2 separate regions of the Homo sapiens genome follow, and region 2 is linked to region 1. Evidence: fine-mapped expression QTL. A gene starts in region 1. The other region holds a variant in brackets. All regions are shown on one strand. Distances are from middle to middle.

Region 1 (4,505 bases):
CAGTGAACTGAGATTGCGCCACTGCACTCCAGCCTGGGGTGACAGAGTGAGACCATGTCTCAAAAAAAAGAAAGAAGAGTATATATGCATAGCAAACGTGTGAAGAGATGCTCAACATCATATGTCTTTAGGGAAATGCATGTTAAAGCAGGAGATACCACTTCACATCTACTAGAATGTCTAAGATTAAAAAGACTGACCACATCAAGTATTGGTGAGGACGTGGTACAACAGCAACTCTCATATACTGCTGGGGTAGGTGTTAAATAATACAACCATTTTGGAAAATATTTAAGCACTTTCTTTTCTTTTTCTTTTTCTTTTTTTTTTTTTGAGATAGAGTGTCGCTCTTTCGCCCAGGCTGGAGTGCAGTCGTGCAATCTCCACTCACTGCAAGCTCTGCCTCCCAGGTTCATGCCATTCTCCTGCCTCAGCCTCCCGAGTAGCTGGGACTACAGGCACCCACCACCACGCCCGGCTAATTTTTTTCTTTGTATTTTTTAGTAGAGATGGGGTTTCACCGTGTTAGACAGGATGGTCTCGATCTCCTGACCTCATGATCCGCCCTCCTTGGCCTCCCAAAGTGCTGGGATTACAGGCGTGAGCCACCGCGCCTGGCTAGCTGTTTCTTTCTTTTTTTTTTTTTCTCAAGAAAAAGGTGTTAAATAATACAACCATTTCGGAAAATCTTTAAGCAGTTTCTTTTCTTTTCTTTTCTTTTTTTTTTTTTTTTGACAGGGTCTTGCGTTTTTGCCCAGGTTGGAGTGCGGTGGCGCTATTGGAGTGCGGTGGCACTATCTCGGCTCACTGCAAGCTCCGCCTCCCGGGTTCAAGCAATTCTCCTGCCTCAGCTTCCTGAGTAGCTGGGATTACAGTTGTGCGTCACCACACCCGGCTAATTTTTGTATTTTTAGTAGAGACGAGGTTTCACCATGTTGGTTAGGCTGTTCTCAAATTCCTGACCTGGTGATCTGCCCGCTTCAGCCTCCCAAAGTGCTGGGATTACAGGCGTGAGCCACCACGCCCGGCCTACTCAACTAATTTTTACATCTTTTGTAAAGAAGGTAATCTCGAGGAGCTGGGATTACAGGCGCCTGCCACCACGCCCGGCTAATTTTTGCATTTTTGGTAGAGACGGGGTTTCACCGTGTTGGCCAGAGTGGTCTCCAACTCCTGACCTCAAGTGGTCTGCCTGCCTCGTCCTCCCAAAGCACTGGAATTTACAGGGATGAGCCACCGCGCCCGGTCCAGCCTATTTTTCTTAAGATATCATTTGTGTTTTTTTCTTTCTTCCTAACTTACATTTTATAGGGTTTGCTGGTATAGTTTTTATAAAAAAAAAAAAAGTTGGGCCGCGCACGGCGGTTCATGCGAGTCCCTGCTATACAGGCCTTGAGGATTCTGCAGAGACCAAGATAAGCTGGGGGGCCTGAACAGTTTAGCAGGGGAGGCCGAGACTCCTGTAACAATCATGCAGTAGTTAATTACAGGGGGGTGAGTGCAGGGAAGACGACAGGGTGACAGGTATATTGCGTAAGTAGACACTGAGGCCCAGGGAAGCGCAAGGAATAGTCCAGAGACACACAGTCTGCGCTGTCACCGGCGGGTTCTCAAATTTGGCCCGCAGGGTCGGCGGCGCTGGGGCTCCCGGCCCGCGATTGCCACGCCCACCAGACCCGAGGTTGCCCCGCTCAACCCGGCCGGCCGTAGCCGCCAGTACCGTGTGGAAGCGTGAGAGTCGAGGGGTGGCACGTGACTGGCGGGGCGGGGCGGGGCTGAGGCGGTGGAACGCGCAGGCTAGTGGCTGTGTTTCCCGCCGGAGGCTTTTGCGCAGAGCCCCGCGTCCCTGGGGGGCGGCGGCGGCGGCGGCAGCGCAGGCGGCAGAGGCGCAGGCGGCGGAGGCGGCTGGGGGGTCCGGAAGTCAACACCATGTCAAGTCTGCACAAGAGCCGGTAAGGGGCCATGGGGCCTGACCCGGCTGGGCCACTCCTGGCCAGGCTGCCCCTTCTGCCCCTCAGAAGGGGGAAGCGCGGGTGTGGCCAGGAATCGGCAGACCCCCTCGGCAGAGGGTCTCGAGCGTCCACCTTCTAACCTCATTGCCTGTGGGCTGCAGGAACGACGGAGGGGCGGCCCTTCTCCTGCCCCTGATGTCACTGCTTCTGCCTCCCTCATCCTGGACCCCTGGTGTCCCCCTTCCCCTGAGTCTTCCTCATCCAGACCCCCATGCCCCGCCCCCGTGCCTTTCCCCCTTTTGATCCCCCTGCTCCCGTACTCTCTCCAAGTGCACCCTGTCCCCCGTGCCTTTTTCTTACTAGGATTGCTAGAGAACTTGCATTCTCCAGTCTGGCCCCTCCCCCAGGCCAGATCCTGCAGCATTGGCTGAATTTTGCTCACTCTTCAGTTTTCCTTCAGGACGTGTTTTTTAAACCCTTTGTCCTTGCCTTCTGGCAGGCCCAGAGGTCTTGTAATGGTTATATTTGTGAGCATGGTCCATTGTCTGCATATCAAATTACTCCTGGTTCCTGAGGTCCAAGGAGTTCAGTTGGTGGCTGTGCGTGGACCCGGCCTGGCCGGCAGGAAGTGCCCAGTAAATGTCAGCTCACTAAGTATTAGAATGTTGGAATATGTCTAATTTTATGGTCCTCATTTGGGAACTTCTAGACAAGAATATCTCTCAAGTTTCTTCCCTGGCATTCTGTGTTTCTGGTTGTAGAGGAAGAAGTGAAATATAGTTTTGTTGTTCTCCAAAGCTGTCTTTGGTGAGGACCTTGACTAAGCTGTGTGATTTTTATGTCCTAAAGGGGAGAGAGGCACAGGTTGGAAACTGGCAGTGTGAGGGAGCTGAGGGCTGTGGGTCTCACTGAGCCGATATCAGCATGCTTCATTTGCCGCCCTATCTCCCCTTCCAGAATTGCAGATTTCCAGGATGTCCTGAAGGAGCCCTCAATTGCATTGGAAAAGCTGCGGGAACTCAGCTTTAGTGGTAAGAAGCCATTCTGTATTTTCACGGTTTCCCTACAGCAGCCCTGTGGCTAGAATACAGGGGGAGGCCACACCTGGTCAGCTCTGGGGCCCAGCTGCTGGGGGCTGGGGCCTTGGAAGGAAATTACACACAGACTCTTGGGGCCTTTTCCAGATTCTGTAGAGCTGAACAGGCAGTGACTGCCTTGAGCTTGGAGGGGTTTCCCAGAGGGGCAGTGGCCACACTTAGCATGCCCTAAGCTTTCCTAAGCTTTCCGCAGGAGGTGCCAGATTCCTGAGAGTAACAGGACAGGACTGAAGCCTGGAGAATGAGAGTTGGGACCTTTTGAGCCCAGGACAGTCTTTCCTCATTCCTTAGCTAGCTTCCTGTGTTGGTGAGTTTGGTTAACTGCAGGGTTGTTCCTTGTTCTCTCCCTGGCTTGGGGTCTAAGCTGCCTGAACTAAACCTTGGCTAGTGGTAAAATGGGTAGCCTTGGGACACTGACTTTAAGGAGCTGATCCTGCTGTGTTAGACTTTGCCCCAATGAGCACAAAGATAACTCTCTTTTTGCCTGTTTTAAAAAATATCCCAACGTGTTCTGCATAGCTTCTTGTCACTTTTTTGCCCTTGTAACTTTGCCAGCAAGAACTTCTGGCCGGGTGCCGTGGCTCATGCCTGTAATCCCAACATTTTGGGAGGCCAAGGCAGGTGGATCACCTGAGGTCAGGAGTTCGAGAACAGCCTGGCCAACATGGTGAAACCTAGTCTCTACTAAAAATATAAAAAAGTAGCTGGGCTTGGTGGCACTTGCCTGTAATCCCAGCTACTCGGGAGGCTGAGGCAGGAAAATCACTTGAACCTGGGAATTGCAGTGAGCCGAGATTGCGCCATTGCACTCCAGCCTGGGCGACAAGAGTGAAGCTCCATCTCAAAAAAAAAAAAAAAAAAAAGAACTTCTTATATTGTCCCTGTCATCCTCATATAGATTCTGAAGTGGAGGTATTCACTCATGTTCATGGTACCAGGGATACTACAGCAGCAACTGCGGTAGTGAGCTTCCTGATCTTATTGCAGGATAACTTTGTCTTTCTGTTTAGGAGTGAAATATAGGCCCCAAAGGAGAGGCAGTCAGTGTTAGTAGTTAAGAGTTTTACAGATAAGTTTCCTTCTTACGACAATTACGTTAATCTTCCCTACTTACTGGGGTAATAATGAAGATTAAATGAAATAATATCTGTAAAGCACAAAATACTTAGCATTCGTAGCTTAGTTTATATTCCACAAATATGTATGGAATATCTTCTATGTGCAGTGCTCTGTGCTATGCACTGGGAATAATAGATGTGGTTTTTGTCCTTCTGGGGCTTACCCAGTAGTAGGGGTTACAGACGTTAAGAAAATACACCATATATATATATATATATATAATAATTCCACTTATGACAGATGCTATGAAATAGTCACAGAGCCATTATTGCTTATAACAGGGGGAACTGACCTGAATTAGGATGACATGGTGGTGGTAAAGGCTGCTCCTGAGGAA
Region 2 (4,000 bases), 21 kb after region 1:
TGGTTCTGCCACTGACCTGGAATGTTGGGTGGCCTTGAGCAAGTGACTTGGCCTTCAAACCGTGTACTCTACGTAGGTGTTCACACCTAGGACACAGCAGGTGCCCAGAACATGGCCGTGCTTGCTGGTGGCCATGCTCAGGCCCGGGGAAGGAGGGTGGGGTGTAGTGATTAAGAACATGGGCTCACCGGGCGCGGTGGCTCATGCCTATAATCCCAGCACTTTGGGAGGCTGGGGTGGGTGGACCACCTGAGGTCTGGAGTTCAAGACCAGCCTGGCCAACATGGCGAAACCCCGTCTCTACTAAAAATACAAAAATTAGCCGGGCTTGGTGGCATGCACCTGTAATTCCCAGCTGCTTGGGAGGCTGAGGTAGGAGAATCACTTTAACTTGGGAGGTGGAGGTTGCAGTGAGCCAAGATCGCATCACTGCACTCCAGCCTGGGGGACAGAGCAAGACTCTGTCTCAGAAAAAAAGAACATGGGCTCAAGGGCCTACAGCTTTAGGTCCACAGTTTTGCTCTGCTGTGCTCATCATGTGACCCAAGCCAAGTTACAGCATCTCTGGGTCTCAGCTTCTTCACCAGCACGTGGCCTTAGTGTTGCTTTGTTGTTGTTTTTTTTTTTTTGAGACAGAGTCTCGCTCTGTTGTCCAGGCTGGAGTGCAGTGGTGCAATCTCGGTTCACTGCAACCTCCACCTCCCAGGTTCAAGTGATTCTCCTGCCTTAGCCTCCCGAGTAGCTGGGATTACAGGTGTGTGCCACCACGTCTGGCTAATTTTTGTACCTTTAGTAGAGACAGGGTTTCACCATCTTGGTCAGGCTGGTCTCGAACTCCTGACCTCAGGTGATCCGCCCACCTCAGCCTCCCAAAGTGCTGAGATTACAGGTGTGAGCCACCAAGCCCAGCCTAGAGTTGCTTTTCCCTAACTTCATGGACCAGATCTGGAAAAAGTGCAGAATCACAGTGGCCACTCACAGGGCTGTTGGGACTTCGCGCTGATGCTCAGACACTGGCCCAGTCCTACTGGCTCCACACGAGGGAGCTCGGGTTCAGTGGCAGTAGTGGGAGAGCTGAGGCAGCACGGTCTGGTCCTGAGGAAAGGGCCGCAAGAGCCTGGGAGTGGTTGTGTTTGGATCGTTGAGTTGGTGCTGCATGGTGTAGCGTCAGCTGCATGCAGGGGTCTGGGGGTTGGGGAGTGTGGGATGCCTGGTGTTCTGTGCTCCTGCCCCTGAGGCCCAGGATCCAGCATGGCAACGGGTCCCAGCAGGGAGGGTGTGGGTGTGGCAGGGGTGAAGTGGCTTCAGAGGCAACTGTTGGCCTTTTCCTGTGCCCAGGACTACCCCATCACAGATGTCTGCCAGATCCTGCAGAAAGCCAAGGAGCTCCAAGACTCAAAGTAGCCCGGCGGCAAGAGGCCCATGTTCCGGAGAGAAGCCTCCCGACCCTGTGCCCTGGCTCCCGGGACACATAGAAACCTGTAGGAACCCAGCCTGAGGGGAAGCCACAGGATCGGCCCGAGACCCAGGCCATGCCCACTGGGGACACACTGTGCCGTGCT[C/CCTT]CTTCTGCCGCCACGCCCAGCTCCCCACCTGCCCTGCACTCTGCCCTCTTTGCCCAGGATACTGAGGAGGGCTGGAGCTCGGGAAGTTGTCCTTCCTGGGCCAGGGCCGTTTCTGGCACTGGGAGGCTGGCAGGGGCCCCTCCCTGCCTCGGCTCTGCCGCCCCAGCCTCAGTTCCTGCTTCTGGTCTTCTCCTGGGCTCCACTCAGGGGAGGTGCTTGGCCAATGGGCCAGAAACCGCTTCTGAGCGGGGCACTTCGGCTGCTCCACAGGGAAGGCGACACTGAAAGCTGAGTCCTGCCGTCTGTCTCACCCACAGATGTCTGTAGTCGGTCGGTGTGAATGTGGGCCCAAGTCCCCAGGCATCTTCTCCGTGTGTGTGTGTGTGTGTGTGTGTGTGTGTGTGTGTGTGTGTGTGTGTTAGGGAGTGAGGGTCTCTCAGGCCTCCAGGTCTCCCAGCCCCTCCTTCTCTGTCTCTACCTCTCTGCCTGTCTCCTTCCACCTCCTTCCCAGAGTGGGACTGTGTCTTGCTTCATGATTCCTCTCTCCATTACTCTCCCTGCCCTTCTCTGTTGGGGTGCCTTATCCTGAGCCACCTCCTCTCCCCGCTTGCCTCTGCTCCCCTGAACCTGGGAGACAGATGAGGAGACTGGCTCAGCAAGGCCCCTGGAGGTCAAGCTTGGCCTTTGCCTCCTGTTCCCATCCCCCAGCCCTGGCTCCTAGGTCCTCCCAACTGGGAGGGAGTCCTCCGTGCCTCACTTAGAGGGTTCTGAACCCGTTCCCTACACAGAAATCTTGGAAACCAAATGCTGCTGAGTAAGGATGAAGCTTTGAGCCTCCTGCCCCTGCTTTCTGCCCAGGGAGGGAGAAGGAAGAGGGGGAGCTGGTTTTTCTGGAGGTTCCCCCAGAGGCCCTCCTGTCCGAAAAGAAAAGGACCTTGATTCTGAGCCCAGGGTCGGAACCCATTGCTTCAGAAGAGTTGTCATTCCCTCGGCTTCCAGGTCCCAACCCAGGGTTGGGTTGAGTGAGTCCCACAAAGGGCAAGTGGGGCCCGAGGAAGCCTCTCTGGGGCCAGGGGTAGCTGAGCTTAAAGGCCCTGGGTCCTGCCAGTTCCAGGAGGGCCATGTCTGTGCCTCTGTGTACCCCTCCACCCGCTGCGGGCTGAGGGAGGTGCAGGGCCTTCTCTGACCCCTGCCTGAGCTGTTCCCAGGGCTGGAGCAGGTGTACCCTGAGCAGGGGCAGCTGGCCACTCCCAGTTCTCACCAAGTCACCTCCCTCCTTGTACAAGGTTTGCGTCCGGAAGCCGGGTGCCATAGTGAGGACCCTCGTCCTCCAGACTGGCTGGCAGGAGTCAGGCCCCAGCAGCCCTCCTGCCCCCAAAGCTTTCCGAGTCTGGTGGGCAGGACTTCTCGCTGCCCTTCCAAGCCCGGCTTTGGGCCAGGAAAGGCTTCCCCAGGTGGCTCTTCTACCAGGCTTTTCCTTTGATGCCGCCTGGATTTCCGCACCTGCCTGTCTCCTCTCCCAGAGCACAGTATTTGGGAGACTTTGACTATTTATTCAGACTCCTGGCTATGTATTGCACATTGGCAAGTGCTCTGGGGATGAGGCATGGGTATAGGAAGGGAGAAAGGAGTTGGAGACAAGATCCTCTTCATTTTCCAAGATCAAAGTCAGCCTCTTCTCCCCATGCTTCTAGGAACTGCCTGGTTTTCGAGCAGGTCCTGGCTGAGCGGGCTCTGAGTTCTGTACTGGAATTGAGTGTAAAGATGGGAAGAGAACTGGGCTGACTCCAGGACCTCCAGGATGAGGCAGAGGCATGATGCTTCCTGCTCACCTGGGCCACCCTCTCTCCAGGACTTGTCAGCTGGTGGTTCAGCCCCTTCTCCAACCCCTTCATAAGCTTGGGCCACTGCCTGGGACCCAGCAGACACTGCCCAGGACTCTTTAGTGCACTCACTCTTGTCTGCCCCCTACCTTCCCTCCTGGAACCACACTACTTGAATCACCATTACTTTGCCTCGCTGGCAGAGTTGGGTCAAGTGCCCTCTCCTTGACCTTGAGATGAAGGTCAAGAGCACAGGGACCAGGCCTTGGTTAGGCTGAGCTCCCAGCAGGACACCGCCTGCAGAAAGGACCTGCCCTGATAATGTCCCTTCCCCAGATTCTCAAGCAGATGCCCAAGGGAGGTCCCCACAGAGCCAGAGTGCCTGAGGCTTCCTGCTTGAGAACCTGCCCCCTGGATCTTGGACACTTACAGATTGAGCTGTATGAATTCAGCGGGTCTCACTCCAGAGGGTCAGAACGTTTGCTTTAGTTTTTTCATCTGTTTTGTTCCTTGAGTCAGTGCTGTTGATGACGAGTTGTCTTGAATAAATCATGTGTTCTTTGCAATGGGCATTGGTGCTGTGATGAGCTGAAACTTTGGAGACCTCAGAACAGG

What was found.
Region 2: its variant is fine-mapped to the expression of TBC1D13 in aorta (GTEx, PIP above 0.99).

The regions. Positions count from the first base shown.
Region 1 is chr9:128,785,425-128,789,929 of GRCh38, forward strand. TBC1D13 (TBC1 domain family member 13) reads left to right here and starts at 1,829. Exons shown (of 12, transcript NM_018201.5): 1 at 1,829-1,952; 2 at 2,910-2,983. The coding sequence starts at 1,930. RefSeq lists a silencer at 1,477-1,966.
Region 2 is chr9:128,806,476-128,810,475 of GRCh38, forward strand. TBC1D13 (TBC1 domain family member 13) reads left to right here. Exons shown (of 12, transcript NM_018201.5): 12 at 1,339-3,955. The coding sequence ends at 1,404. Among named protein-coding and RNA genes, the nearest start is that of ENDOG, 10 kb to the right of the region's middle. The variant C/CCTT (reference allele first, on the strand shown) is at 1,563.